Homo sapiens: one gene and its partner. The protein of the gene in region 1 interacts with the protein of each later gene in a biochemical or structural test. Each region holds a gene or a part of one and is shown on either strand. Other genes may lie near its edges.

The links.
Region 2: the proteins of MARCHF1 (region 1) and CD86 form a complex in vitro, tested with the Homo sapiens proteins (one study listed by BioGRID).

The regions. Positions count from the first base shown.
Region 1 is NC_000004.12:164,376,593-164,392,318, forward strand, and holds the start of MARCHF1 (E3 ubiquitin-protein ligase MARCHF1), read right to left. Parts: upstream 7,428-15,726; 5' UTR 7,278-7,427; exon of another isoform or gene 6,595-7,277; intron 1-6,594. UniProt on the Homo sapiens protein: E3 ubiquitin-protein ligase that mediates ubiquitination of TFRC, CD86, FAS and MHC class II proteins, such as HLA-DR alpha and beta, and promotes their subsequent endocytosis and sorting to lysosomes via multivesicular bodies.
Region 2 is NC_000003.12:122,047,844-122,063,756, reverse strand, and holds the start of CD86 (T-lymphocyte activation antigen CD86 isoform 1 precursor), read right to left. Parts: upstream 8,396-15,913; 5' UTR 8,268-8,395; coding exon 8,254-8,267; intron 3,338-8,253; exon of another isoform or gene 2,102-3,337; intron 1-2,101. UniProt on the Homo sapiens protein: Receptor involved in the costimulatory signal essential for T-lymphocyte proliferation and interleukin-2 production, by binding CD28 or CTLA-4.

The DNA of each region.
Region 1 (15,726 bases):
CTCCTTCTCACTTGGACCTTATGAGGAGCTGCAGAGTGCGTCTCGGAACTATCCACCCATTCCCACTGACTGCGAGGCTCCATGGTGGTGTTAGCTCCTCCTCACTTCCAGGCTGCATGGACCACGGTCAGAAGCAGGGGGAAAGATAAGACATGCTAGTAAAGTCACAGAAAAGAAAGTGAAAGATACTCAGCGCAAGCTTGAGATGGGAAATAGCACAACTGAGTCAAAGGCTGCCTACAATGATTGCCCGAGCCAGAGCCAGAAACAGATGTGAGATTGACAGGACATCCGGCAGGGTCCAAAAAGCATGTGATATACTTCATGAGAATCAGATCATTGCTCACCACAGTCAGCCCCAATGAGCCTCAATGTCAGTACCTAATTTATCACTCTCACCAAGCTTCCATTTATCTCCTGATGTGCCTCAGGACACTGAATTGAAGGCAGGCACAAGAATCTATTCCAGGCATTCTCCGACTTCCAATCATTGTGTCCCAAATAGTCAGTGATTTCTGGAATATGTTATCTGGAATATGTTACCTGCAACATACAAGTCACTCAAAAATAACATTACATGTAATAGTTCAATCCATCCGTCACCAGGCAGACTTAACAAAAATTCTAGGTCAATCCATAAAAGCACAGTTAATTTAAATCATATATCTCTAACAATCTACTTCAGGTATAACCTGAATTAACTATATTTCCGTGAATTGGTCTAGAAATACGTTCTGAGTTTTATCCATATACCAATAAGAAAAGAGATAAACATAGTACTAGCTTGTTAACACTATTGTATGTATTTCACAAGAAATCAGTCTGTATCAGTTGCTTTTCAGAGCCAACAGTTGGAAAAATAGGACAGTTGTTTCTAAGAAGAGGGAGACTCCAGACTTCACACATTTTTCACTCCATAAATGTAGCGCTTATTTGTAAGTTAGAATGATTCGTTAACCATGGAGTTCTTGTGTTCAGAAAGGAGCCTTACTTTTTATGCACACACACACACACACACACACATACACACATGTGTCTGTGTCTGTATTTTTGGGTGTGTATTAGTCCTAAAAGAAACAAAAGTTTTACCAATTTATTATGTTTAGTTACCAATAACTTTAATCTATTGGCTATTTGAATTACTGGTCTTCACTGTCACAAAGATTTACCTCAAAATTTAAAAAACAGACAAACAGTCTCAATATAAAATGGCACATAGTATATTAATGGCTGTTTGATAGAACCTGCCTTCGTTTTATACCACTTCTAAAAATACGTTTGGAGTTAGCTGTATTGCGTAGGAGGCTGTGGGATGGGACTACTAACTCCAGTTTTACCATCAAGAAATGATCTTTGATCACTGTACATCTATGTTTATTATCAGTTAAAAATAATGACACATTTCAGCTGATGGTTTTGGTCAACAATAACTAGAAAAGCCAGATATAAGGACAGTATTCTGATAAAACCTGGTGGAGAGTTTCAGAAGAGGTCAAGACTAGAAGCTTCAAGATTACAGATGGAAGAAGTACCAAGGAGGTAATGTGACTTTTCACAATATGTTTTTTCCCCGGGATGAAGAGTGGGGGCAATTGCCAATCTGGAAAGACAGTGAGAGACTAAGAATACGGGCTTTGCCTGAGCAGAGGACCACTGATGTGAGACAAAGAATCTAGCAGAGATTTTGGCAGTCTTGAGGGACTGGAGAGACAAAATTAGCTATGAGGGGCCAAGAGCTCAGTGAGAAGTAAAAGGTGTAGCGCTCAGCTTGACACATACTTGATTTTACCTACATGAGATTTGCTAAAGCCTGAAGTTACACATATGAGTGGAGGCTAAGACACTGAGAAGGAAGCTTCTGGAAAGAAGAGCGGATTCTCAGGAGTCTTGTCCTGGCTTGTGTTGAGGGCCTGTGAATGCACCAGTAGAAGTTCAAGACATCTGGGCTGGGTGCGGTGGCTACGCCTTGGCATCTGGGAGCCCAGAAGTCTAACAACTTGTGAGTCAGCTCAGTCACTGGGTGGATTACAACTATGGGCTACCATCCCACCGTATCTGTCTAGCAGAGGAAATGTTGATACTTCTTTGGGGATGTATAGATCATCTGGAGCCTTTATAAGTTTGTTTTTTGTTTTTTGAGACAGAGTCTCACTCTGTCACCGAGGCTGGAGTGCAATGGCACGATCTTGGCTTGCTGCAACCTCTGCCTCCCAGGTTCTAGTGATTCTCCTGCCTCAGCCTCCCAAGTAGCTGGGATTACAGGCACCTGCCACCATGCCTGGCTAATTTTTTGTATTTTTAGTAGAGATGGGGTTTCACCATGTTGGCCAGGCTGGTCTCGAACTCCTGACCTCAGGTGATCCACCTGCCTAGGCCTCCCAAAGTGCTGGGATTACAGGCATGAGCCACTGCACCTGGCTGAGTCTTTATAATTTTTATATACAATAACTAAAATTAAGAGTAAAGATATGCTGAAAAGAGGCTCACGGCAATACAGCTGACATTAGCAGACTAAAACCTTAGAATAAGTTTGATTAATATGCTCCAAGTCATAGAAGAAAAGATGGAGAAAACAGATAAATTGGAATCTATAGAAAAAATCAAATGTACACTTGGAAATTTAAAAAAATACAATAATTACAGTAATAACCTGTGGATGAGCAGTATAACAGGCATGGTGTAGAAGGTTAGTAAACTGAAGAGAAGGTCAAAAGAATACTCAAACAAGCACAGAGAGAAAAAAAAAGTAGAAAATAGTAAAACAAGTACAGGGAGCATGTTGGGTACAGTGAAACCATCTATTAAACATGTAACTCAGATCTCAGGAAAACAGACACAATGAAGTAGAGCTATCTATGAGAAGATAATAGTCAAGAATTCACCAATGAATTTCACCTGATGAAAGATAACAATCCACAAATTCAAGAAGCTCTGCAAACTTGGAGGATAAATCCAAAAAACTTATACCTAGCAATATATAGAAAACTAAAGAAAATAATGGCAAATGAAAAATCATAAAATCACCCAGAGACAAAGACACATTTACCCTCATAGCAACAATATGACTGACAGGTTTGATGGAAGTGAGAAGTCAAAAGAATAACAAATGTTGGCCGGGCACAGTGGCTTATGCCTGTAATCTCAGCACTTTGGGAGGCTGAGGCAGGCAGATTGCTTGAGTCCAGGAGTTTTAGCATAGATGGTGAAACCCCATCTATGCTAAAAATACAAAAATTAGCCAGGCATGGTGCTAGTCAGGAGGCTGAGGGACGAGAACCACTTGAGGCAGAGGTTTCAGTAAGCAGTGATTGCGCCACTGCATTCCACCTGGGTGACAGAGTGAGGCTCTGTCTCAAAAATAAATAAATAAAAATAACAACATGTTGAAAAAAAAAAAACTGCCAAACAAAAATGCTATACTTAGCTTTAAAAATTACATCTATTTAAAAATATTTTCAGACATACAAAAACTGAGTGAATTTGTTGCCAGCACACTTGCAATAAAAATACATAACCACTTACTTCATAATTTTTATGAATAAATTATAAGTGCATTGACAAGAATGCCACAAATTTAACATACCAGATATTCTAAAACCACAATTACTTTTGCACCAACCTAATAAAATAGAATTCACACATTAGGTTCACCTCTATCAATTTACTTCTTTAACTGAAACTAATTAGAAATTTAAAGTGATTAAGTTCACTAATATATAATATTTGTCACAGTTCCTCCTGAATTTTCCAAATCATTTTTGTACACTAGTTCATTTGCTATGCACTGTCCCCCATGAGAAAGGCAAGGCAGATATTATCATCTTTATTTTATGTAAAATGAAACTAATGTTTACAGACTCCGACCCTTGTCCTCAAGTACATGACAAAGTCAAAAGTAGAACACATATTTCCTACCACTGTTCATCACTGAAACACTAGGAGGTAGAAATGAATTAATAGTATCATAGGGGAGTCATAAATTGCAAAATGAACCCAATATATAGCAAAGGGATAATCGTGGCTTCAGAGAATTTGTCTCAAATATTTTTATTTTATTTTTAAAGCTACATTAACAGCATTATTTTAACCCTCTAAATATTAGATCATCACACTCCTAAATATTTTCAGCAACACTATAACCGTTGACTTTCACTGTTGTATTTCCAGAAAAAGTTAGGATGCAAAAACCTTTCAGCCAAGGTTTTACTGACCAATTTCCCTATCAAAGGCCTACAGGAAAGTGAAAGCTACAATGTTTTGTGATCCATAAAACATCCTTAAGCTAGAATTTGAATTACACCATGAAAAAGCCCAGAAGACAACCTCTTCATTGAGTTTAAGACACAATTTTGCCTCAAGGTGGGTAAAGGACGTTTCGCTCTATCATAGAGGTCCTAAAGTATCTGTTAAATCACACAACTGGAACAATGAAAGCAAGAGGTCGTCAAACAGCATAAACTTATTCTTCATACAGGATCTTTCCATGGATACTTCCCAGTGTCCTGACATCATGTTTTTCGGTGACCTTGGAACATCACTATTGCCTGCCCTGGGCTTTGTGCTATGGCTTTATTTTTGCCCTATAATGCAACTTCCTCCTTTTTCTCACCTTGCCCAGTTAAGAGCCCTTGTGCAACAAAATAGGCAAAGTATGTGTGAAATACATTAAAGAACATTATGAGAATACTCTCTAGTTCAAGGACACTATTTTACTCCATGTGGTTTTAAAAATAATATTGTACTAGCTATCAAATAAGTCAAATTATATCTATTTATAATATGCTTATACTTTCTGAGAAATTTTCTCAGTATTCTAGTGGAATGTGAAGAATCTATGTACTTTTGACCTTCTTGGATAAAATATTTTTGAAATAAAATTAAAGATTTCATACATAAAATGTAATCTGTTCTTCTCAATATACATTTTTATTTACCATGTTAAGGAGGTAAAACATCTTATCGCTAAAGGTAATATCATATGCCAAAAACCATGAGCCAAACACCACAGTACCTCCTGTTGATCATTGCTAGCTGATTATCTGATCAGAGTTATACACATATTGTATGTAAATGTAGATTTTTATATAGTGTACACCCCATCATGTAAGCACGTCAGAAGCTCGTACGTTCATAAGTCTATTTCAAAAAGAGTTTTTGCTATTACAATACTTGAGGAAAGTAGTCAACATGAGCAACAGGTTCTCTAAGAACCTTAAAGTAAAACCCCATTATCATAAAAACATAGTACAACAAAGTTAGAAAGACGACTTCAGATAAAACAGGTGGAGCCTATTGTGACAATTAGTCAAGAAACAATGAAATAAAAAAAACTGTATCACAGAAGAAAACGTTGCTGACAACCCCATAAGTCCTGGATTAAAACAAGCTCTTTGCTCATAACATTGGTCTCTCAACATAGCGTGACATAATCAGACATATAATTATGCACTTCCCAGTAGAGATACGCATGTAAAAGCTACAATGAGCTTTTCCAAAATCAAAACTGACACAGCACCTTCTGATAGTCCCACCATTCATATTTAGTAAAGCCTCCCTGTATTATCTCACCCAGTTTCTTTTTAACTTCCACCACATTGATTATTCCAATAATTTTCTATCAAATCTGTTCTGAAAAGACTCAAACTTTATCAAAAGAGCAATCACTAAGAAAAATTATTTCAATCCTGTTTCAGAAAAGCTTCATTAGAATCATCTATCTTTAAAGAAAAAAAATCATCTGAAGAAAAATTAGCCTCTTTCAAGAAAAATAAAATAACCCTTTGAATTATTATTGTGATTGTTGCTTTCTTATACCATAGCATTATGTTAGATGCTGGGATACCAAACTGGTATACCAAGAATCTCCTTAATGTTCAAGGATTATTTACATTTAATATACATTAAATTCATACATACAAAATTACTATTTAAAGTTTAAATATTTTCGATTGTAGTGGATGAAAACAGAAAAAGTCACTGAACCCCCAAAGTAGCAAACTTTCACTTCTTTCCATCTTTTTCACGAGATATTCCTTTTGTAAACACATTGACATTAGAAACAGATGTTCTGATAGGTACCACCGCTTCCTTGTGATCTGAAAATTGAACCTCCTAAACAAGGAATTCATCAATAAAACCTGTGTCCGCCAAGCAAAAAGCCAGGGGGTTGGGTGTTGGCATGTTGGCTATATAGCACTTATAGGCGAGACAACTCTAAACTAAGGTACCTGAGCAGGTTCAGAATCTTTTTTCGTCAAACCCACAGAGCTCTATAATAGAAAACATTTTGATCTCAAAAATGTTTAGCAAGCAAATCTTTTCTGGAACTACTGAATAACAATAAGAATTGCCAGGAAAACGTGAGGCTCTCTAACTACATATTGGCCATGCCTCTGATTCCATTCACCTGTCACAAATCTCCAAAATCAGCGCTTCAGAAACCAGAGAAAAGAGCGAGAGTGAGTCTCCCTTAACTTTGCCATTTCCCTCACACCATTTGGGGATAAAACTTGGGCGTCTCTCTGCCTCGACTGGTCACTCCACTTCCTGGAGCTCCAGAAACTCCCTCAGCACCTGGATAACTGCGACACTCACCCGTGAGCGCAGGACCCTCCTGGCGTCTTAAGTCCCAGCTCTCAGTCCCGCTGGCCGCAGGAACACAATGACATCTCTCGCCCAGGAGGGCGGTTGCAGGGAACCGAAATCGGACACAACAGTTGCAGTGAACCCGACTCAGGGTTGAGCGCATCAGCGCTAAACCCAAGACAAAGGCTGCCCTGTGTCTTCCGTACTCAGCGCTCTCCTTTGGTAATCGGTCCCCGTCCCCTTCAAGCCCACACTAGGAGCGCGTGAGCCTGTGAAGTGGCTGTCATCGACTCCGCGCTTTCCGAGGGGTGCGGCTCCGTGACTAGTACCACGCCGGTGTAAACAGCGCGCCGCGCACTGGGGATCCGCCAGAAACGGCGCGCGCGCAGAGCGGGCGCTGGGGGCCAATAGTAGCAACTACCCCAGGCTGCGGGCTGGAGCCGCCTCCTCTCACCAGAGAGGCGCCTACTGGGCGAGCCCGCCGCCCGCAGGTTGGGTGGCAGCACCCGCCGCGAACCCCAGCCACGCTCCCCAGTGGACCCACCAGGCAAAGGCACCTGCTGCCTGCCCTCCAGGGCTGATGCTGTGCCAAGCCCCGCTCGGGATCAGGGACAAGCCGCCCAGGACTACCAGCCGGAGAGAAGGGGCTCCCAGTGAGGCTGATTGAATGAATGATGTTTGCAGTCACTTACCGGCGGAGGGTGAAGTAGCTCAGGCGGCCGCCAGGCTGCGTGCGGCCGGCATCCCGGGGCGCGGGCATTCTCCCATCCTTTGTCAGTTGCGGGTGGAGCGCTCCTCCCCAGCTAGCGGACGAGCAGCCGGGTGGCAGGCAGCCCGGCTCTGGCTCGGCTCCCCAGTCCTCTCCCCTCCTCTGCTCCCCCTCCCCTTCTCCGTCCCCCTCTCTGAGCCGGCATTCACTGGGCTCCCATGATGTCATCCAGTGGAAATCTGCCATGCTCAAAGACTGGAATAATCCAGCGCTCACGCGGGGAACGCAGAGCAGGCGGAGGAGGCAACAGAGCCTCTAGGAGTTCCCAGAACTAGCATCTCCAGGTTAACTGGAGTCAAGGACAGGACATAGGGGAGTCTGCGGAAAGCAGGCTCCGAGGGTGTATGTGGGCCGGGTGGGCGCGGTGGGGATGGGGCCGGGGATGAAGAGCCTCTTCTTTGCCGTAAAGATTCCTAAATCAGTACTTAAACTGATGGCAGATGCCAAGGATAAGGAGAAAGTTTTTTTCTGGCTGCTCAGTAGCTCAGGTGCCCCATCTCGGTGATGGACACCTACACTGCAGCCACGATAATAATTAGAACCCCTGGAACCCTCAGAGCCCTAGTCACAATGAGAAAGTTTAGGATGTCTGACCAATGACAGCTTAAATGATGAGCAGCTAAAGTGAGGGAGAAAGATGTGTACTGTTTACAGGCGGGAGTCTGAGGCAAAACATTAAACAACGAGGGGACCTCAACAATCTATGACATGAACACCGAAAAGACCGCTGGTCTGAGGCAAGAAGGCACCAGTAGCAATTCACTCCTAGCCTTAGTATTGACCTCCTGTCTTCCCACCATATACTAATGGACACTCGAGAAGCGACTCTCTTGTGGCCTCACCCAAAGACTGTCATCAATGATGAAACTATTTAAATCACAAGGTTTATTGAAACTCATAAAAGGTGCGATGCCAAATCTTTTGCTCAAGATTCTATATAACATCAATAGAAGTTTTATTAGAGGAATAGACAAACAGCCTGAGTATTTTTGAAGATTCCGCTCTTTTCATGGAAACAGGCAGATACACCAGATCTGAGACCCAGCCCTACAGCAATCTAGAGCAGCTTCATGTCAAAAACTCTCCTGTTCAGGGACCAGATTTCAACAGCTCATGGTTTGTGCTCTAATCAGTCCAAGCTTCAAGGAGGCTCTTGAGTTCCCAGGATTACCTACCACCTGTCATTCCTGGAAGAGACTAAGCTTGCAGAGAAAAGTACCAGCAGCCAGTGCTGATTAGGCAGTCTTCAGTGAGAGTGCTGGGTGGGAACGTGCAGCCTCTGCCGCTGCATTCATCACCATTATCCTTTACAAGTGTGAAGACTAAGAATAACATTTATTACAAGTGTAGATACGGTTAGAAACTCCTTAATCTTTGTAAATACAAAGAGGACTCAATAAAATAATAACAACAACAATTTAAAGGCTACTCACTATCAGATAGGCTTCTTATTGCATTGTGAAATTGTGAAATCCAATGGGACTTTTCTGAGGAAAAAGTAATAAGTATGAAAAAGCAGCATCAGAAATTATTTTAAAAAATAAACTATCAGTGTAATGGATAAAGAAAATAATGGCACATATACACAATGGAGTAATATTCAGCCATAAAAGAGAATAAGATCCTGTCATTTGCAACAACATGAAGGAACTGGAGGTCATTACCTTAAGTGAAATAAGCTGAGCACAAAAAAGACCGACTTTGCATGTTCTCACTCATTTGTGGGAGCTAAAAATTAAAACACCTGAACTCACAGAGATAGCGATTCAAGTGATGGTTACCAGAGGCTGTACAAAAATATAGATAGATAGAATGAAGAAGATCTAGTATTTGATAGCACAACAGTGACTACAGTCAACAACAATTTATTGTATATTTTCAAATAACTGAAAGTATAATTGAAATGCTTATAACACAAAGAAATGATAAATTCTTGAGGCAATGATACCCCATTTTCCCTGATGTGAATATTACACACGGTATGCCTGTATCAAAATATTTCATGTATCCTATAAATATATATACCCACTATGTACCTATAAAAATTAAAAACTAATAGAGTATAAAAAAATTGTGATGCATGTACTTTGTGAAATCTATGTGTTCACTTTTATTTTCAAATTAAAATATTTTAGGGATCACTAGTATTTATATCATTATATAATAAGTAAAAAATAACATATCAAATGATTGAACAAATGTTAGAAACAAATATTTTTAAATACCAAAATAATAAAGATTTTTTTCAATCGGGGCCAAATGGGAAGTAAACCAGGAGAAAAGGTAAAAATTTGGAAATGTAAGTAATGGCAGTCTTTGAGAATAGGAAAACAATCTAATGGCTTGAAAAAAGTAATTAGTACTGCTAATGACACTGTTCTAAGTGCATCAGAAGGTCAAGTTGTAAACCTTCCCTAGGAGATTGGTTCTTTAATGCCCTATCTATCTTCTTTGCCTCTGTTTATCTTCCAGTTCTTCAGCATTCTCTGGACTAATTCATAAGAATGGAGACAAGAAGAAGGTCATAGTTAGCAGATCTGGGGAATTTATAATAGTAGCCATAAAGATCGGAAAATGCATCCTTCAGCTTTTTTTCTTTTTCATCACTGCTCTAAGGAATTAAAGCAAAACCTAAATCTCTTACTTTAAAGAAAAAATGCATTCTTACATGATAATGTATTTATTTCTGTGAAAATATCTTCAGTATGTGATTTGGGACTTTTTTGGGAATTGAAAATACTGTGCTGTGGCAATCACTCAGGACCCTGAACTTAGCAAAGTGAATTTACTGTATCTCTACAATAACTTCTTTCCTAATGTGTCCCAACCTACTAACACCTTTGCCTGTGCCACTGACATTTTCCACTACTACTGCATGCTTTTTTATTTGTAATTCTTAAAACGTGGTGTTTGAATATTTTGAAATATTTTTATCCAAATGGATGCTATAAATAACTAAAACATCTAATTGTTACATGAGAAAATGTAAAAGTATCGTAAGTCTTAGCCAAAAAAAAGTCTGAAATCATATTTTGCAAACCTAACTTACATTTGAATCACATTTAAATGGTGAATATATTAAACCTTGGAATTGAAGATTTAGAGTAGATATATTATTTCTGCCTCAATTATTGATGCTCTACTGTACCATTTTCATACTGATACATGAGTCTCTTCACAAAAGCAGCAAGTGCTTTGGTGGGAAAAATAGACATATTTTAACATTTTTTATTTGTGAATTCCACAGAATATAAACTTTTTATACTCTGGTTTCATTTAAATTGATAGACTCATTTATAGCTACTGACTTTTATTTTTATTCTTATTTGTTATTTATTTATTTATTGAGACAGAGTCTTGCTCTGTCACCCAGGATGGAGTGCAGTGGTGTGATCTCAGCTCACCGCAACCTCTGCCTCCTGGGTTCAAGCAATTCTCCTGCCTCAGCCTCCCGAGTAGCTGGGATCACAGGCATGCGCCACCACACCCAGCTAATTTTTTTTTTTTTTTTTTTTTTGTATTTTTAGTAGAGACAGGGTTTCACCATGTCGGCCAGTCTGGTTTCAAACTCCTGACCTCAGGTGATCCGCCCACCTTGGCCTCCCAGAGTGCTGGGATTACAGGCCTGAGCCACTGTGCCCAACCTTGACTTTTAAAAACAAGTTTTCCTACATACAAATTTGTTAATTGTTGATACATAATACACAGAAATAATATCAGTAAGTCCTTATCATGTGCCAAATACTGTGCTAAGTTATTATATGTTACTCCATCTGCTCTTCAAATCACCCCATGATACAAGTGTATTAACCTCTCTTGAAGATGAGGAAACAGAGACATACAGAGGTTACAAAAATCGTCCAGGCAACTAAACTAGTAACAAATCAAATTAAAATTTGAGTATATCAGCCTAAACATATAAAGTGTGTCCTCATAACAGCATACTTGCAAATTTTAGGTATTTTTTCCACTGAAAAAAATGAAATATGAAAAAATAAAATGTTATATACATGCATACATTATATATACATATATATACACACATATATATATTCTATTTGATGAAGTAAATAATATGATTTTGTGAACTTTTCCATCAGTTAACAAATTCATCACTAATTTTATTTCCATTATCCCTGCAAATGAAATGCTTTCAAAGTTATTTATGAAGAAAAAGAATCTCAGGCTACCAAATAAATTTTGGTTTTGGATCTATTCTTAAACAGTTTCAGACATAAAGCAAGGTACAGTGATTTTTGAACTTGAAGACAGATCATTGCAAAATGAAATAAAAAAGAAAAAGAGCCATAAACCATTCATTTGAATAAAGATAAAGACTACCTCAGCAACTATTTTCTCTGTACAGTTAATCCATCAGTAGCCCTGGGAGAGAAAACTACATCACCCATCCAAATGAAGGCTTTTCTTCCTACTGTGAATATTAACAAGGAAAATAGATCACTTTACATATTGGACCTGAAAGACCCAGTATGTTTTTTATCATAGAAAGTAATATTCCCTGGGCACAGATATATAACCAAAGCTTCTTTAAACAGAAAGGTTTAGTGTAGACTTTTTCAAAGTCTTTTTTTTATTTTATCTTGTTTCATAATTGCTGATGTTTGGCAACTCTGTTAATAAGGGTTATTTGAGAGAATGTGTGAAATGGTTAAAAGGTACACATAACAAATTATCATTTTTTTCAAAGTATGCTGCTAACTTGGCTTTTTGAATTAATTGCTCATTTATGATATAAACCATTTAAACAAACAAGGGCTATCTTGGTACTCATAAGATATGTTAGCAGGTACAAATTTATTTATTGCATACTTGGGATCTAAATATTAGTGTTATTTTGACTTTGGTTCCAGTACATTCTTCTATCATTAAATATCTTTATTTGACAGGACGGGGACCCATCCCGTGGCTTTAGTTAATTCTCCAGCTGCTTTGTCACTTATGCTGGTCATTGGCACTAACATGACATAGAAGAGGTCTTATATGAATTGCTTTTGTTTAAAGGTACAGGAAAGATTGAGGAAATTTTTTTTAGAAGGAAGAACTTATTGCAGAATGGACATACTGCTTGTGGAAAGCAAAGGAATCTCATTGTATATATACACATTCCTTCACAGCCTAATGCTATGAAGGAACATGTATATATACAATTTTCTCCTAAAATAAAGGTATTTGAGAAGTAAAGATGCTGATTTATCCTCTTAGACTGAGATTTTTCTTGAGAAAGTGCTCATATTATTCAGCTGTAACAGTAGTATTAGTGATCTGCTTTCATTATTTCCACCCTGATCCTGTGGCCATATATATTTCCTCAAATTGCTTCAATTACCTTGGTTGATCCCATTTATAGGCATGGGATTAAAGATAACACAGATCCAAATACGCCCAAAGAAAGATAATTTGCTGATCTTTTAGTCATAGTCCTTAATCTTTATAGCAGATGTTTTTCCCACAGCTATATCTTCTTAGCTATCATGGGGAAAAACCCTGACAAATATATTTTCTGAGGAAAAAACATATATATAATATTAGAGTCTTCTAATAGACATTCCTGATTTTCCAAGTCAACTTTAATTTCTGAAGTACCCTGAGAGTCGAATGGAAGAGCTCAGAGTACTATAACCTTGCTTCTGAATCTAGTTCTCTTAATGATGTCTTTTATGACTTACGTAATTCATTTCACCTAGCCACCTTATCTTCTTCATTTGGAAAAGGAAATTAATAACATCTGCCTTATATATCGCTCACTTCAGAGAGTTCTATGAGAAAAGAAAGTAGAGTGGAAGTATGATACAAAGGGAGTGTAATAGTTCTACAGATCTAAAGGGAGCCTCCTGAGCTACATCCCGTTCAGTGGTACAGGACACTCAATTATGTATAGCTGATAGTGGTGGCTATAACAAGAAGGGAAGAGAAAGAACAGGAGTGGAAAAAAAAGATCTATTCTGTTGGGGGTCTTTTTTATTTTTTATTCCTTTAGACATAAATATGGAACAGTGGAAGTGTGGCCTTTGAAAAGTTTTGAACCCCAGCTTACCATTTACTATAACTTAATTAATATATTTTAATGTCTCTGAACCCCACTTGCTCCTCTAAAATACAGTTAATTTTTCCTCAGTTTAATTTTTTGAAAATCAAGATATTTGTTCATCCACAGTGTGCTTTTAAGGTAGTACTAATTTTCACCTCTGCAAAAGTTATTTTATTAGTTGTAACAAGGAGTAGTAATGTAGACTTAAGGAAATAAGATGCTATCTCAAAGAAGGAAGGAGAAATTAATCTGTTTTGTTAATAATATAACCAAGACACTCTAAATGGTTCCTGGAAAATATTGGTTGAATAAATGAATGTATGATTGGATCACTGTGATGATTCAGTAAAATAATGGAATATAGACAACATCTAGTGCTATGGTGTAAATATTTATGTCCCTGCAAAATTTGCAAGCTGAAACCTAATCATAAAATTTATGGTATTAGGAGCTAAGGGCCTTTGACAGTGATTAAATCATGAGAGCAGAGCCTTCATGAATGTGATTAGTGTCCTTTTAAAAGAAGCCTAAGAGAGCTTCCTTGCCTCTTCCACCACACGAGAACACAGCAAGAAGTTTCAATCTATGAATCAAGAAGTAGGCCTTCACCAGACTCTAAATTTGCCAGCATCTTGATTTTACACTTCCCAAGCTTCAAAACTGTGAGAAATATGTTAACATTGTTTATAAGCCACTCACTTTATAGTATTTTGTCAGAGTAGCCTGAATAGACTAAGACACCTAAGATAATACCTATCAATTAGCAGCTGATCAATAACTAATATAACTTGAAATCCTGGATTCGGGGCAAATTGCATTCCAAAGGTTTTTATCCTTTGTTTTTTTTAAAAAGGGAATATAAGTTATATACTGCATTTTGTGTAGTATCCCACTGTTGTTTGGGGCAGCGCCATAAAATCAAACATAGTGATATGTCTGCAGTGAAATATATAAAGATTCATGCTGAGTGTGATAAAATGAGCCTCATATCATTTCATGTCAGTTCTCTGCCAAATGAGTTGTGAAAATTTTTTTATTTTTTAGATATTTCTAGACATTAGAATAAGAATTAACATTTATTGAATATCTACTATATGTCAGGCACTGTTCTAAGCACTTTACATGTATTAATTTAAGCCTCATGCAATGTTCTAAGGTAGGTAATCTTATTTCCATTTTATATTATAGGAGAGAAAACATGCTCAGAAAGGTTAAACCCTTGCTTTATTTGGGTTATAAAGTAAAGCAAAATGAGTCTAGAAAGATTTGTGTTAAACATTATAAAACTAAAAATAACTAAAAATAATTAGGAAGAACATAAAAATAGACATTTATGACAGAAAGAAAGGAATATCTAAATTACAAGCAATGAAATAAATTATAGATAAAATAGTAACATTTTATTAAATATTATATAAAATTTCAGAACACCAAAAATACTACATACAAATTTAAAGTTTAATAAACTAGAATAAATTTTTGCAACAGATATATTTGGTATATTCAATATATATAGAAATCAATAAAATACTAAGACCTCAGTAGATTTCTTAAAAAGATATAAAGAAATCACACAAAAAAGAACTACTTGCAGAAAAGAACTAACATTGAAGTTTAAAATTCAAGTTTAAAAAATCTGAGACACAATTTTTCAAGTATCAAGTAAAGATTTTCATAACTTGTAATACTTTCTTCGGGCAAAGGAAGAGTTGTATATATTGTAGATATAAACATATGTTCGTTCAAGCTTTCTAGAAAACATTGGCAGCAAATGCCAAATGCTTTAAGACTTCCTATAGCCTTTGAGGTAGTGATTAAATTTCTTTAGGTTCTGCTATAGAGAAATAACCAGAGATACAGGGAAAATATGTTTATCCACAAACATGTTTCAGCAGAGAGTAATTCATAATATTATTTGTAAAAGGAAACCAGTGCTTTCAAGGACAGATGTATATAAAACAACTTCAAATAAATGAAGAGGGAAATATTGTTTGAACTGACCAATACACCACTTTTCAACACATTGCTGAGCCGAACAGAATAGGTGATGTCGTAAATTCATAGTTTAGTTTCCCAATGGCACATTAACAAGTCCTCTAGAGAGTTGTCGCCAGGGAACCTGAGACCCTGAAGCCATATATATAGGTAAGAGAGTTTCTGTACAGTTGTCCTCATCCAGGTAAGAGGGTGATTTTCACTGCAAAGATATTTTTTCCACAGTGAGTGATGACAACTTGTGAAATTGTTACGCTCCACTGTGGACCTGTATGCTGTCCCTTTCTCTGAATCAGTTGTTAATACTATAACTTTAGGGCAGTATTAA
Region 2 (15,913 bases), on another chromosome or scaffold:
ATGAAACTGTGTCTCTACTAAAAATACAAGAAAATTAGCTGGGTGTGGTGGCGTGTCCTGAACCCGGGAGGTGAAGGCTGCAGTGAACTGAGATTGCACTACTGCACTCCAGCCTAGGTGACAACGTGAGTGAGACTCTGTCTTTAAAAAAAAAAAAAAAAAAATCTTTCTATGTACTTACTTAGTTTTAGGAACCATTTACCAAAATAAAACACACATTCTGTGGATTATTTTCTTTACAATTCTGTATGTAGCCTTATGTTGTCTTCTCTCATTAAGGAGTCATTATTAACTTCATTTTTAACTTACTTACCTATTCTTCTACTTATTTAGGTTGATTCTTATTTTTCATTACATTAAATAATGTAATAAACATTTTGGTGCACAAATATGTTTCCGTAGCTCTTGTTATTTAACTAGCTAGATCCCTAGAGGTGAAATTATTAAAGCAAGATATATAAACATTTTTATAATTAAAAAATGGTAGTTTATATATCTTCTAGAATTAGAAGTGTAAGTTTGAATACAGTTCATGATTACTAATGAGCAAAAAAATCTTTGTAAATGAAAAGCAAACTTAAAATATTTGAAGTCCAGAAAGCGAAAAAGAAAGTTTTCATAGACAACTTCATGAAAGCACTTACGTGATTACAGTTATAGAATAGAATTTTATTTTAATGATTTTGGCACCCTACCTTACATAAAATTTATTTTAGGCAGCTTTGTTGCTTGACTTTCACCTGATTCAACTGCATTTGGCATGCCCTTCTCTTATCTATAGTTAGGAGGTCTACTATAGCAACTTCTAGGTTATAGGTAAGAGTCCATCTGCTGGAAATCAATCAGAAAAGGCAGAGCTAAAGAACTCTGACAATTAAAAATATAGGAAATAATAGATTTTAAAGCAAAGAATGTGAGTCCTAAAATATCTTATATCCATAGGACTTCCTGTCCATTATAAATTGTTATATTCCTCATGGCATTGGCAAGTGCTTAGTAGCCTCATCTTACAGAGGACACTGAAGTTCAGGAAGCTAATAGGCTTCCCAAAGTGATACCACTAATAAATAGAAGATGATTTATTAACTACTTATTATTTGATACCAACCAAACTAGCTCAAAACCCTGGCATTTATCTAAGACATCATACTGCCTACAGACAAATAGGAAACAGCTACCTTCATGCTCCTATGAAACGTCACACCCTGTTATAAAAAACTCTTATAAAAAATCACCTTTGATATATTTACCACAAAACTGAAATTCTTGAGAACAGAAATCATGTTTACTCATACTCATCTTTGGTGTATTTTTAATGTTTAGCACAGTGCCTGGAACAAAGATGCTGAATGAACTGAAAAAAAATGTACTAAGGACATGGAGAAATTGGCAGTGCCCAGAATGGGTGTCTGCTTGTACAACCATTTTTAAGACTCTTGATATTGTTGACATATTGCTTTCCAGAAATGTTCTCCCCATTCATATTCCCACAATCAGTAGTATACGAAAGTATCCTCTTATTGCATACTTATTAGCATGATTACTCCCAACCCTCCCAAAATCCATATAAATTGTTAATTTGTAAAAGGAGAATATCTTGTGTTTGAATTGGCATTTTTTTTAATATTTAGTGAAGATGAACATTTTTAGTTTTTGTTTTTTTTTTTTACTTTTTAAACTTTTCATTTTTAAATAATTATTGATTCAAAAGAAGTTGAAAAAATGTACAGGGAAGTCCTGTGTACCTTCACCCAGCTTCCTTCAGTGGTAACATCTTGCACACACAGTTTGTGTTACGATTCACCCACTGAGGGACTTTTTTCCCCAGTTTTTTACTATTATGAATAAAGCTGGTATAAATATTCATATACTGATTTTTGCAGGAGCATAGGCTTTTATTTCTCTGGGATCAAAACCCAAGAATGCAGTTGCTGGGTCATATACTAAATGCATGTTTGGTTTTATAAGAAACTGCCAAACTGTTTTCTAGAGTGGCTTGACCATTGTACATTCCCAACAAGCAATGTATGCATGATCCAGTTTCTCCGCATCCTGCCATCATTTGGTGTTGTCATTATCTTTTATTATTTTAACCATTTTTATAGGTAGGTAGTGGTTTAATTTTTTCATAAAGGCAAATGATGTTGACTCTCTTATATGGTTGTTCACCATCTGTATATTTTCTTTGGGGAAATGTCTTTTTATATCTTTTGCCCATTTTTCTGATTGGATTGTTTGTTTTACTGTCTAATCTGATACAGGAAAATATCTCATTGGTGTTTGAATTGGCATTTCTTTAGTATTTGGTGAGAATGAACTTTTTGTCATGTTTATTTCTTTTTAAAAGTTACTGAATTATTAACTGCATTAATTGTTTTTGTCATTTCATAATTGTGGGTTTCTATTTCTAAATAGACTTGAAAAAAAGTATCAGCAATTTCATTTGTATTCATCACAGTACCTTAAACTATCAGGCTCTTGATAAAGATTTATTGTTTAGTTGGTTGAAAATAGTTGTAATATTGGGGTGATAATCTAGGTTGGCCTTGATTAATCTAGGTAGTTGAGTATTTTAGGTTTATCCAGTTTTACCATTTTCTGGCGTGTATTGACTAATTGGTTCACTTAACCAAATGTTCATTCCTTTTATTTTTACTTGATGTTTTAGTGCAAATCTGATTCGACACCTAATAATATAGAGCTGTGACATTAGGGTTGTTTGGCTTATCATATTCCTGCCACTACAGAAAGATTAATTTTGACTCAAAGCTTTCTAAGAAAGTGTTTTAATACTTCTCTATTCCAAACTCTAATGGGTTTTTTTTCCCATTCTGTTTATTGATGTAAATTATAAATGATCCCTGAAATTCCTCTTGGGCTTGTTTTCTTCTTTATCTCACCAGATTCACCAGAGGCTTTACCTCTGCGAAGCCTCAAATCTCAACTTGCCTCTGAACTGATAATACAGAATAGAATCTGTATGTTATGTGCACTCAAAATCCAACATGTAAAATGACTGCAAAAATTATTTTCTTCCAGAAATCCTTCCCAAACTAGTTTTGGGTGGGAAAAATAAAGTATTGGATTTTATTTTTGGTTAGCCTTTTTTTTTAATTTAAATTAAAATTTTTTTAGGAATGGGAGTCTCGCTATGTTGCTCAGACTGGTCTTGAACGGAACTCCTCGCCTCAAGCCATCCTCCCACCTCCGCCTCCTGAGTCACTGGGATTACAGGCATGAGCCATTGACCTCAGCTCTGTTTAACCTTTAAAATGGAGGAAGGAAGAACTCTGGGTCTGGCTGGCCTGACTCCAGATTATTTCCACCGACAGCAGAGGTGAGTTTACTCCAGTGAGGAGGTCTCATTTTATCACCAGACTTTCTGCAGGAGACCATCTGTGCTGCCTCCATTTTCCAAGCTCTCCAAAGTCTACTGCCTCCACTCAACTGGGAGTGTTCTGCAAAGGTCAAGGTCACTGAGGGCCTCTGGACTGACATTTTCAGTCATTCTCCTACTTCGCCTTTCTGCAGAATTTGACCTGTGACTACACTCTGCTTTGTGAAATGTTTCTACTCTTAATTTAAGTGATGTAATCCTGTTTTGGTTTCTTTCCCTCCTCCCTGATGCACTTATTCACAGCTTCTTTCTCTGGCTGTATGCACTCTCACCAAGTGTATTAGTTTGCTGGGGCTGTGGTAACAAAGTACCACAAACTGGGGTGGCTTAAACAAAAAAAATTTATTTTTTTTCTGGAAGCCAGGAGTCCAAACTTAGGGTTTCCACAGGGTTGGTTCTTTCTGAAGGTTGTGAGGAAAGAATCTGTTGCGAGCCTTTCTCTCTGGCTTGTATGTGGATGGCCGTCTTCGCCCTGTGTCTTCACACCGCTTTTCCGCTGTGTGTTTCCCTTCCTTACAATAAGCACAACAATTGTCTTGGATTAGGACCCACCCTAATGACCTCATTTAAATTTTATTATCTCTGTAAAGACCCTATCTCCAAATATGATCAAATCCTGAAGCCCTGGGAGTTAGGATTTCAACATATGAATTTTAAGGGAGCCACAATTCAACGCTTAACATGTAGTCACTACAGTTACCTTTCATGTCACATCTCATGTGTTCAACATGGAAAGCTTGGTAAATATGCTCTTTCCATGAATGCATTCTCCTCTTTCTTGCATCCATCTCCCCACTTGATTTCTTTCTTTTTTTTTTTTTTTTGAGACGGAGTCTCACTCTGTCACCCAGGCTGGAGTGCCGTGGTGCTATCTCAGCTCACTGCAACCTCTGCCTCCTGGGTTCAAGCTATTCTCGTGCCTCAGTCTCCCAAGTAGCTGGGACTACAGGCCCACTTGATTTCTATGACACCACTTTTCTCCTGGGCTGCTCCAGTCTCTCTAGCCCCTCCTTAGTATCTATTGTAGATTCTTCTTCCTCATCTCCCTCCTTAGATGTCAAGGTTTTCCAGGTTCTGTCCTTGGCTTCCTCTCAATCCTCCAACCTCTCTGCTACTGAATTGACCCACAATGAGAATTTCAACTGTCAACCATACTTATGCAGAAGACTCTTCATGTGCATTCCAGGCCATCCCTCTTTTTTGAACTTGCACCTAAATATCTACTTGTCTGCTTGGACATCTCTATCCAGCTGCTCCACAGGCACCTCAAACTCAACATGTTAGAGAAGGAATTCACCATCTGTCTTTTCTCTCTGCCTGGCGCAAACCCACTCTGCTTCCTATACCTTCCATTTTGTGAAGGATGCCACTATGCACTTAGATCTCTCCTCCTCTCCCAGTGTCTACATCTGTCAAAAACCAAATTCTGTCAATTCTGGTGCTAAAATATCTCTTAAATGCATCCTCTCCAGTCTGATCCCACCATAACTGCCCTGGTTTCATGCCCTCGCCATTTCTCCTTGGCTTACTCCAATAGTCTCCTAAATGATCTCCTTGTCACTCCAAATCAGTTTTCATTCTTCTGCCAAGGGATTTTTTTTAAAGTAAATTTTATCATGTCTCTATTTGTTTATGATTCTTCAAACTTAGGCTGTTCCTTTAGGATGATCATAGCTGGATGCCTGGACTGTGGGCTCCTTGTTCTGGCCCCACCCAGCTTCTTTCTCTATTATTACTCCCCATTAGGCATCTTCTCAAAGCTATACTTAAAATTCCCCCATGCACCTAGACCCCATTTGTCTATTTAATTACCCAGGTCTTGAGACTTTAAACCACATTAACCTCCCGTGAAGCCCATAGCTGGTGGCCTACAAAAGCCCCAGTAGCTCTGAGTCATCTGCTCTCTCTTGCACTAGCTCTTTGCTCCAGGCTTCATTCCTGCTCCTAAGTTGACTCTCAGTTTCCTTAACTTCACCTGCCTTTCTACCATTTGGCTTCCCACTGTCATCAGTCACTCCCTGGAGGCTGGCCTTGTCCTGGGTACTGCTTGTTTTAGATCAGCTCCTCCATCCCAAAAGCACAACTTGGGGTTGTCCTGCCAGGCACAGAGGATACTGAACATTTCTGCTGGAAAAAACCTTCCTCCATTCTGTTCTTAGTAATGCCATTAAGTGGTTGTATAATCTTGGACAAATCACTTTTCCTCTGTTTCTTAATCCAAACAGTAATAGTAATAAAAACTACTAACAATTCCTGAGTACTTAGCAGGATATGGATTATCTCATTAAAATCTCACAACTACTTTACGACATATTACCATACTCCCATTTTACAGACAAGAAACTGGGAATTACAATGGTTAAGCAACTTGTCCAAAATCACATAGCTAGGAAGTTGGGGAACTGGTATTCAAACCCCAGCAGCCTGGCTTCAATGTGCGGCCACTTAGCCACTGCACTGTCCTCCCTCTCAATATGCAACTCACCCTAGAGAGCCATGCAATCACTTCTGTAAAATAAGGGAAGAGTGCTGCAGCCTGTTCTAAATATAAAATTCTATCAGAACATGCCTTTCAAGATCTAATGAGTTATGGGTAGAGTGGGTGTATTTTGAAGAGGATTCAAGAGATGAAGAAAGATAAATGCAAAGGGCTAAAGCCCTAACTATGGAATCTCACAACTTATAAATTATCACACATCACTAGATGGTTACTTCTCTGAAAAAAACCAGCTATTGTTTTTTTTAAATCTTAAATATTTAACTTTATTTTTCTGCCTACAGATGGGATTCAAATTGAAAAGCACACAGTAGAAAATACAAACTACCTATATTTCTGATTAATATTGTTTGTATACATGTATCATGTATAAAAGTGATAGCACTGTTCGTTCTGCATTTTTCCCCTTTAACTAAACACATTATGAATTGTTCTACAGTGGAATTTTAAATAATTACATGGTATTCCATTATGGATGTTCCATAATCATCCAATCACTTGTTTTTAAACACGTAAATTGTTTCTAAGATTTTCCTTATTAGAAACAATAGCAAGAAAAATATCCATCACTAAAACTTTACAAACATGTATTATTATATCTTAGAATAAATTCCTAAAAGGTGAATTGCTTGGTTAAAGGGCATATACATTTTAAAGGCTTTTGATATGTATCACTAGATTATTGTCCAGAAAGATGATATCACCACTAGTGCGCAACTAGGGTACAAATAATCCTCCCTTCTTAGCAAGATAGAGGGTTCTTGATTGCTTGCTTTTTAAAACTTAATATTTATCTCTTTGATAGAGAAAAAATGATACTTCACTGTTGTTTTAATTTGTATTTATTTCATCTCTTATGAGAACAGACATTGTTTAATGGCTATTACTGGTTCATGACCAATCTTCAGGCACTGTGAAACAAAAGGAATCTTAACAAGTTCAATATAGACAGCAGCCTATGGTTTTTTAGACCTCTGCAGACAGTGCTAGCATAATTAAGTAGTATCCCCTCTATGGTACCACAAAAATTATAAATTTTGAAATTCTTTTTTTCTTCATACAAGTATAACGCTTCAAAATTCCACTGGAGCAAAAGGAATCTTTACTGGAAAATTAAATTTTAATCTTCTGAAATAAAAGCAACAAAGCTTTTTCTCAAACCAGTAAGCACTGGGTAGATGAAAGTTACTTCGATTTTCAAAGAACAGTAATTATAAATACATAGTGACGGCCGGGTGCGCGGTGGCTCACGCCTGTAATCCCAGCACTTTGGGAGGCCGAGGTGGCCAGATCACAAGGTCAAGAGATCGAGACCATCCTGGCCAACATGGTGGACCCCGTCTCTACCAAAAATACAAAAATTAGCCGGGCGTGGTGGTGGGCGCCTGTAGTCCCAGCTACTCAGGAGACTGAGGAAGGAGAATCGTTTGAATCCGAGAGGCGGAGGTTGCAGTGAGCTGAGATTGCGCCACTGCACTCCAGCTTGGCGACAGAGCGAGACTCTGTTTCAAAAATAAATAATTAAAAATAAATAAATACATAGTGACTGGCGCCAGCTGCCACCACCCAAGAGAAGGGCGGGTGTGACTCCTTCCAGGAAGTCTCCACAGCATGGAGAAACCTTCTGGCGCACCACGAAGCGGGCAGGAAAGATTTTAGCTCTACCCCTTATGAATAGTGTGAACTTGGGCAAGTTTTTTAAGCCACAGTTACCCCATCTGTCAAAAAGAATGATGATGTCTTTCCAAAAGTCATTGTGAAGAATAAAATTCAATGAAATAGCACTAGTAAAGTACCCAGCACATCATGCATGTTCAATACATGGTAACTAATTTAATCACTCTACCTCCTTCCACTACCCAACCCTGCCCAGAATCTCCCATGGCCTGATTATGACATATTAACTGAGTTTTGCATTTTCTCCTTATACCTCTTTTTTCTCTTTCTTTTTCTTGATCTCTCTCCCTCTACCTTCTCTATCTCATTCCTCCACCCTCAGACCAAACTGACCCTGGTAGACAAAAAACATATTCCCTGTTATTTGTCATTCTTATGCAGATATTTTAAAAATTCCTGATTCTTCACTAAAATCAATGACTGTAACATTCAGTATTTGAATAACAGATTTACAAAACCAAAATTAGGCACCTAAAAATATATATAACTACCACCAATGAACTGCTTTGGGCATTGCAAATAATTCTTGCCTTTATGTGCCAAAGATCTTTTGTAGAAAAAGAAAGCTTCTCCACTTAGGAACTAAGTGAAGGACACACATCAAAGCACCATCTTCAACCTCAGCCTTTCACTGCAGTCACAACTCATAACTTCTCTGCAAAGAATAAGAATTATTACTCACCACTGGGGATCCATTTTGGCTGCTTCTGCTGTGACCTAATATCTGGAAATGACCCCACTCATCCGTGTGTCTGTGCTAGTCCCTGTTACAGCAGCAGAGAAGCAAAGCTTTCACCCTGTGCAAGCCTTCCTCGGCAATGACTGTATACCTACCCAGCTAACTTTCTTTAAGAGAAGCTGTTCCTCTTTTCTCTACAGATTTTGACCACACTTGAGGAAGAAATTTAACCCTTTCCTTGCAGTTTAAACTCATTGACGTAGGTCTATATGTATTAAAGAATATATAATTCAGTAGCTTGAGTTCCAGACATGACGTTAAGATGAGCCTGAATAAAAAATCTCCCCTCTTGAAATTCCCTCAAAAAACCTAGAAAATAAAATAATTAGAAAGAGAAAACAAACCTCCGCAGCAACAAAATAGAATAAAGAGGCATTCTACAGATTTTGATAAGATAATAAAAAGTGATTTATTGTGGATGTGGATTGGGAGTGAGTAGCCACCTAACCCTGCCAATTTCCACAACCAAAGTGTGGAGAGTTTCACTGAGCTGGGGTGGGGGGATGGGAGATGGGGAGATGTTCTGTAAGGACTGCATAACCAAGGAGGGCAGACAGAAGCTACTGCTTTTATTATTTCATTCCTACTATAGCCAAGGATTACATTGATGAAAGCGAATATTCTGAAACAGAAGTCTGAAAAAAAGGCAGCATTATAAAATTAATAGATGTCCCTAAGAGACAAACATAGAATTAATCAAGCAGAAACTATACTAGAAGATATTTCCTCGTATGAATTAAAATGGGCATCATCTAGAAACTCAAACTGTTTAGTGTATCAAAGCAAAAGTTATGAAAATCGATTCTCATCCAGACAAATCATTTTGAACATTTTAAATTCCAAAGGCAAAGCTAAAAACAAAATGAAAACAGAATGACTACAGAGAAACAAAAAACAACTTGGCATCTTACTCAACCCTAAATGGCAAAAAACAACAGAACAATATCTGCAGAATTTTGAATTAGCATTATCTACCTAGATAAGATGCCAGTTAAGTGTCAAGTCAATAGAAATATGTCACCAAGCAGGCAAGAAAACAACAACTGCAACAGAAATACCACCACCAAGACAGCCTTCCTAAATAAATTATTTAAGGATATATTCCAGAATAATAAATGAATTAAAATAGCCTTAAAATGGAGAAGCCATGGCTGAAAACACCAGTGCTGAGCTTTAAAGCAAGTTAAACATGGAGAAATAAGGCTAAATAATTATAAATTAGTTTAGACCAAAATGCTAAATAAGAAAAACTTATTAGAAGTAGATTACATATATTATTTCAAGGAAGTTTAAAAATAGCAGATGACATCACTGCTAACTAGAGCAAGGAAGCAAAATCAACACAATTATTAATCTTCAAATAAGAAGATAGAACAATGATTATTTTATCAACTTTGATAATTTCATCTGGATTTGAGAATTTTAAAAAATGAAGACAGCAATAATATAAGTTATCTATCTTCAAAATTATTGCAGAGCAGGAGTGCAAATAAAATAGTATTTATAACTACATAACACATCAGAAATAAGATGAGATAAAAAAATCCATGTAAACCTCATTTGTTATAAATATTAAATATTAAAGGTATGGGATGTCATTTTTCAGTTTCTTGGTAGCAGTGTACACACTCAAATTTCCATTTCTTGGTATCAATGCATACACTCAAATTTTTATTTAAGATAGCATAAGCATTTTCTCCTGTTATCATAAACTTTTTAGTAGTCATTAAATAGTACATTAATAGTACATCAAGTATACACTGTGAAAGCTGGCTGTAATGGCACATACCTGTAATCCTGGCTACTCAGGAGGCTGAGGTGGGAAGATTGCTTGAACCCAGGAGTTTGAGAACATCTTGGGCAACATAATGAGACCTTGTCTCATACACACAAAAAAGGTATATATTGTAGTAAAATTATCTTCCTAATATCAGACAGTTTTAGCTTTTAGTATTTTTATATTACAATTTTCTAATTAATATATTTAGTATATACATTTAGGAGTTTTTAGTATTTATTAGTTATCCATTGCTGTATAACAAATTATCTCAAAATTTATTTCCTTAAAACAATAAATGTTTAGGGATTGATATCCAGAATATATGATTAAAAAAACTCCTACAACTTTGCAGAAGAAACAACAAACAATTAAAAAGTAGGCAAAAGAGTTGAACAGACATTTCTTCAAGGAAGATATAGAAATGGCCAATATCACATGAAAATGTGCTCAAAACCACTAGTCATTAGGGAAATGCAAATCAAAACCACAGTGAACGTCAGCAAGATGGCAGAATGAGAAACCCCAGCCTGTGCTCCCTCCCAGAGAGACACTAACTTAACTATACACAGACCAATTCCTTTTGTGAGAAATCCAGAAGCTGGCTAAGAGGCTACATCACACTAGGTGAGCAAAAAAAACAACTGCACTGAAGCCAGTAGGAAAATTCACGGTATACCCTCACCATAGTCTGTCCTCTCGGCACAGGGCCACATGGTTAGGAGGAAATTCCCAGTTTTTGGCTTCTCCCTGAAGAAGAAATGAGAAGACTAGACCATATATCCAAAGTTCTGACTTTTTGGCCGGGCGCGGTGGCTCATGCCTGTAATCCCAGCACTTTGGGAGGCCAAGGCAGGCGGATCACTTGAGGTCAGGAGTTTGAGATCAGCCCGGTCAACATGGTGAAACCCCATCTCTACTAAAAATACAAAAATTAGCCAGGCATGCTGGCACATTCCTCCCAGCTACTTGGAAGGCCGAGGCAGGAGAATTGCTTGAACCCGGGAGGCGGAGGTTGCAGTGAGCCGAGATTGCGCCATTGCACTCCAGCCTGGGCGAAGAAGCGACGCTCCGTCTCAAAACAACAACAACAACAAAAAACCAAAGTTCTGACTTTCCTGGGGGCTGCCTGAGGGACTAGCCTCTGTCTTACCTGTCTTAGAGAGTTTATAGGACCCACCATACTCTAGATGCCTGGGGGACACTGAGAACAAAAAAATACTGGGTGATATATTGCTGTCCTAGAGGGTTCTTGCTACAGCAGATACAGACTGATACAGTTCAGTGGCCTATCCCTAGGGGACATGGAAAAGAGTGAAGCATGCAACCAATATTCCTGCTTTTTGGGGAAATGGGGAGATGCCCATAGGATTGGTTTCTTTCTTGTCTGTCTTGAATCACTGGCATACTCTAGATGCCTGGGGCCCCATGAAAAGAAACCAAAGAGCTAAATAGCATGATGCTATTTCAGAGGACCTGTGGCACAGCAGAGGCCAATACAGCTCAGTGCCCTCTTCTTCAGGAGGGCAAGAGAAAAATAGAACATGTGTCCAGAATTCTGGCTTTTCAAAGGGCTGCCAAAGGGACTGGTTTCCATGTAGCCCCACTTAAGGCAGAGAAGGTCTAACATACTCTAGAAGACTAGGGGCTGCCAAGATCAAAAAAAAAGAGCTGGACAGTGTGCTGCTACTTTGGAGGACACACACTATAGAAGATAGACAACAGATGGAGCAAGAGATAATGAACTCTTAAAAAAGAGAAGCCAGAAAATCTCTCTACTTAGGAATCTACGTGCATAAGCCCAGAGAAAACGTATCCACAGAAAATGTTTGAGAGGTCCCCAGAATCTTTAGCCAGGCTAAAGATTATGAAGGTCTTTCCCAGTACAAAGCCGGCTGGTAAAGACTGGAAGAAGTGGCTGGTTTGTTGTTGTTGTTGTTGTTTGTTTGTGTGTTTTGTTTTTTAATATGCAGATACCAACACAAAGTTCTAAGAAATATGAAGAAACGGGAAATGGTCAAGTCAAAGAAACAAAATAAGTCTCCAGAAACAGATCCTAAAGAAACAGAGGTATATGAATTATCTGACAAAAAATTCTAAATAACCATCATATTGATGCTCAATGAGTTCAGGAAAGTGATGCATGAACCAATGAGAAATTCAATAAGGATAGAAAATATTAAAAGGAACCAAATAGAAATTTTGGAGCCAAAGAATGCAATTTTAACTGAACTAAAACATTCACTAGAGGGGTTCAACTACAGACTTGATCAAGCAGAAGAAATAATCAGCAATTCAATTACAAGTCATTTGAAATTATCCAGAGGAGCAAAAAGGAACAATAAAAATAGCAACAAAGAAAATAAGTAAAGAAAGCCTGAGAGACTTATTGGACACCATCAAATGTACCAATATATCTATTAGAGCAGTCCAAGAAAGAGAAGGGTTGGAGAGCTCATTTAAAGAAATAATGGCTGAAAACTTCTCAAATCTGAGGGAGAAAATGGACTACAGATCCAAGAAGCCCAATAGGCCTAAATAAGATGAACCCAAACAAATAGACACTGAAGCACATTATAATCAAATTGTCGAAAGCCAAAAAGAGAATTTTGAAAGCAACAAGAGAAAAGCAGTTCATTACATACAAGGACACTCCTATAAGATTAGCAATGGATTTCTTAGCAGAAACTTTGAAGGACAAAAGGGAATGGGATGAGGTATTAAAAGTGCTGAAAGAAAAGAACCAGCCAACCAAGAATACTCTCTCTGGCAAAACTAGCCTTCAAAAATGAGAAATAAAGACTTTCCTAAACAAACAAAAGCAGAATAAGATCATCACTAGAGTTGCCTTTCAAGAAATGCTAAAGAGAGTCCTTGAAGTTGAAATGGAAAGATACTAAACAGCAATACAAAAACATGAAAGTATAAAGCTAACTGGTAAAGATAGATATATAGACAGGTACAGAATACTGTAATAGTGTAACAGTATTGTGTAAATCACTTAATTCTGGTATAAAAGTTAAAAAAAACAAAAGCATAGAAGTAATTATAATTATAAAAATATATTAATGGCTGTACATTATTAAAAATATAATTTGTGACATCCATAACTGTGGGGGGGGGGAAGTAAAAGCAAAGTTTTTATATGAAGCTGAATTTAAGTTTTATCGGCTTTAAAAAGATAGTTATATCTATAAGCTGTTTTATGTAAGTCCCACAGTGAGCACAAAGAAAATACCTATGGAATTTCCACAAAAGAAAGTAAGAAAGGTATAAAATCATGTCACCATAAAAAATCCATGAAACACAAAGGAAGATAGCAAGAGATAAAAAGAGCAACAGAATAGCTACAACACAAAAAACAAATTTCAAAATGTTGATAGTAACCCCTTTTCTATCAATAATTACTTTAAATATAAATGGACTAAGCTGCCCAAATGACATAGCACAGTTGAATGAGTTTTAAAAAAATAAGATCCAACTATGCACTGTCTACAAGATTCACTTTAGATTTAAGAACACACATAGGCTGAAAGTATAAGGATGGAAAAATATTCCATGCGAATGATAACCAAAAGAGGGCAGGAGTAGCCATACCTACAAAAGATAAAATAGACTTTATCTTCGTCTGTTTGTGCAACTGTAGTAAAATATCTGAAACTGGGTAATTTATAAATAACAGAAATTGATTTCTTACAGCTATGGAGATTGGGAAGTCAAAGGTTCTGGCATTCAAGTCTTGTGAAGGCTTTCTTGCTGTAACCTCACATGGTGGAAGAAGGACAAAAAGAGATGAATTGCTGTGTCCTCACATGGTGGAAGAGTAGAAGAGAAAAAAGGGCCTAAGCTAGTTCTGTCTAGGCATTTGATGAGGCTATAATCCATCCATGAAGGCAGATATTTCATTATTTAATCACGTCCCAAGAGGCTCCACCTCTTAAAACCACCACAATGGGGATTAAGTTTCAACCCATGAATTTTTGGGGACATTCAGACCATAACAGACTTTAAATCAAAAATTGTCAAAAGAAACAAAGAAAGACATCATATAATGATAAAAGGTTCAATTCACCAGAAAGATATAACAATGATAAATTTATATGCACCAACATCAGAACACCTAAGTATATGAAGCAAACATTGGCAGAACTGAAGGGAGAAATAGACAGCAACATGATAATAATAGAGGATTTTAATACCCTAGTTCCAATAAAGGTTAGAACATCTAGACAAAAGATCAATTAGTTAACAAGGGGCTTGATCGACACTATAGACCAAATGGACCTGATAAACATACACAGAACATTCTACCTAATAGCAGAAGAATTCACATTTTTCCCAAGAACACACAGAACATTTTTTTTTAATAGATCACATGCTGGATCACAAAACAAGTCCTATCACATTTAAGATTGAAATAATACCAAGTACCTTTTCCAATCACAATGGAATGAAACCAGAAATCAATATTAGAAGGAAAATTGGAAAATTCACAAATATGTGGAAATGCAACAACATACTCTTGAACAAATGGGAAATTAGAAAATATCTAGAAACAAAGAAAATAACATACCAAACTTTATGGAATGCAGCAAATGCAATACTAAGAGGGAAGTTGATAACAATAAACATATTAAAAATATCTCAAATAAAAAATCTAACCCTACATGTTAAATAACTAAAAAAAGAAGAACAAGCTAAGCCCAAAGTTAGCAGAGAAAGGAAATAATGATTAAAGCGTAATGGTGGCTTATGCCTGTAATCCCAGCACTTTGGGAGCCCAAGGTAGGAGGATCACTTGAGGCCAGGTGTCCAAGACCAGCCTGGGCAACGTAGCAAGACCCTGTCTCTATAAAAAAAAAGAGAAGACTCAGATAAGATGAAAAATGAAACAGGAGACATTGCAATTGATGCCACAGAAATTAAAAAAATATTGTAAGAGACTGCTGTGAACACTTACGTTCCAACAAATTGGATAACCTAAAAGAAATGGACACATTCCTAGAAACAGAACCTACCAAAGCTGAATCATAAAGAAATAGATAATCTGAACAGACCTGTAACTAGTAATCAGATTGAATCATCAATCAAAAGCTTCCCATTAAAGAAAAGCTCAAGACCAGATGACTTCACTGGTGAATTCTATCAAACATTTAAAGAAGAATTAACACTAATCCTTCTCAAACTCTTCCAAAAATTTGAAGAGGATAGAACACTTCCAAACTCATTTTACAAGGCCAGTGTTAACCTGACAGCAAAGCCAGAAAAAGACACTACAAGAAAAGAAAACTACAGGCCAATATCCCTGATGCAAAAATCTGCAATAAAATACTAGCAAACCAAATTCTATAGTACATTAAAAGGATTATACTCTATGACCAAGTGGGATTTATCCCTGGAATGCAAAGATGATTCAACATATGAAAATTAGTATGGTACATCATTAAAATCATATGGTCATCTCAATAGACACAGAAAAAATACTTGGTAAAATTTAACACTCTTTCATCATAAAACCCTCAACAAACTAGGAATAGAAGGAAAGAAGGAATTTACCTCAACATAATAAAGGGGATATGTGAAAATCCCACTGCTAGCATCACACTTAATGGTGAAAAACAGAAAGCTTTTCCTTGATGAGGAACAAGGTAAGTCTGCCTACTTCATCACTTCTATTCAACACAGTGCTGGATGCCCTAGCCAAACAATTGGGTAAGAAAAAGAAATAGGTGGGAGGAGCCAAGATGGCCGAATAGGAACAGCTCCGGTCTACAGCTCCCAGCGTGAGCGACGCAGAAGACGGGTGATTTCTGCATTTCCATCCGA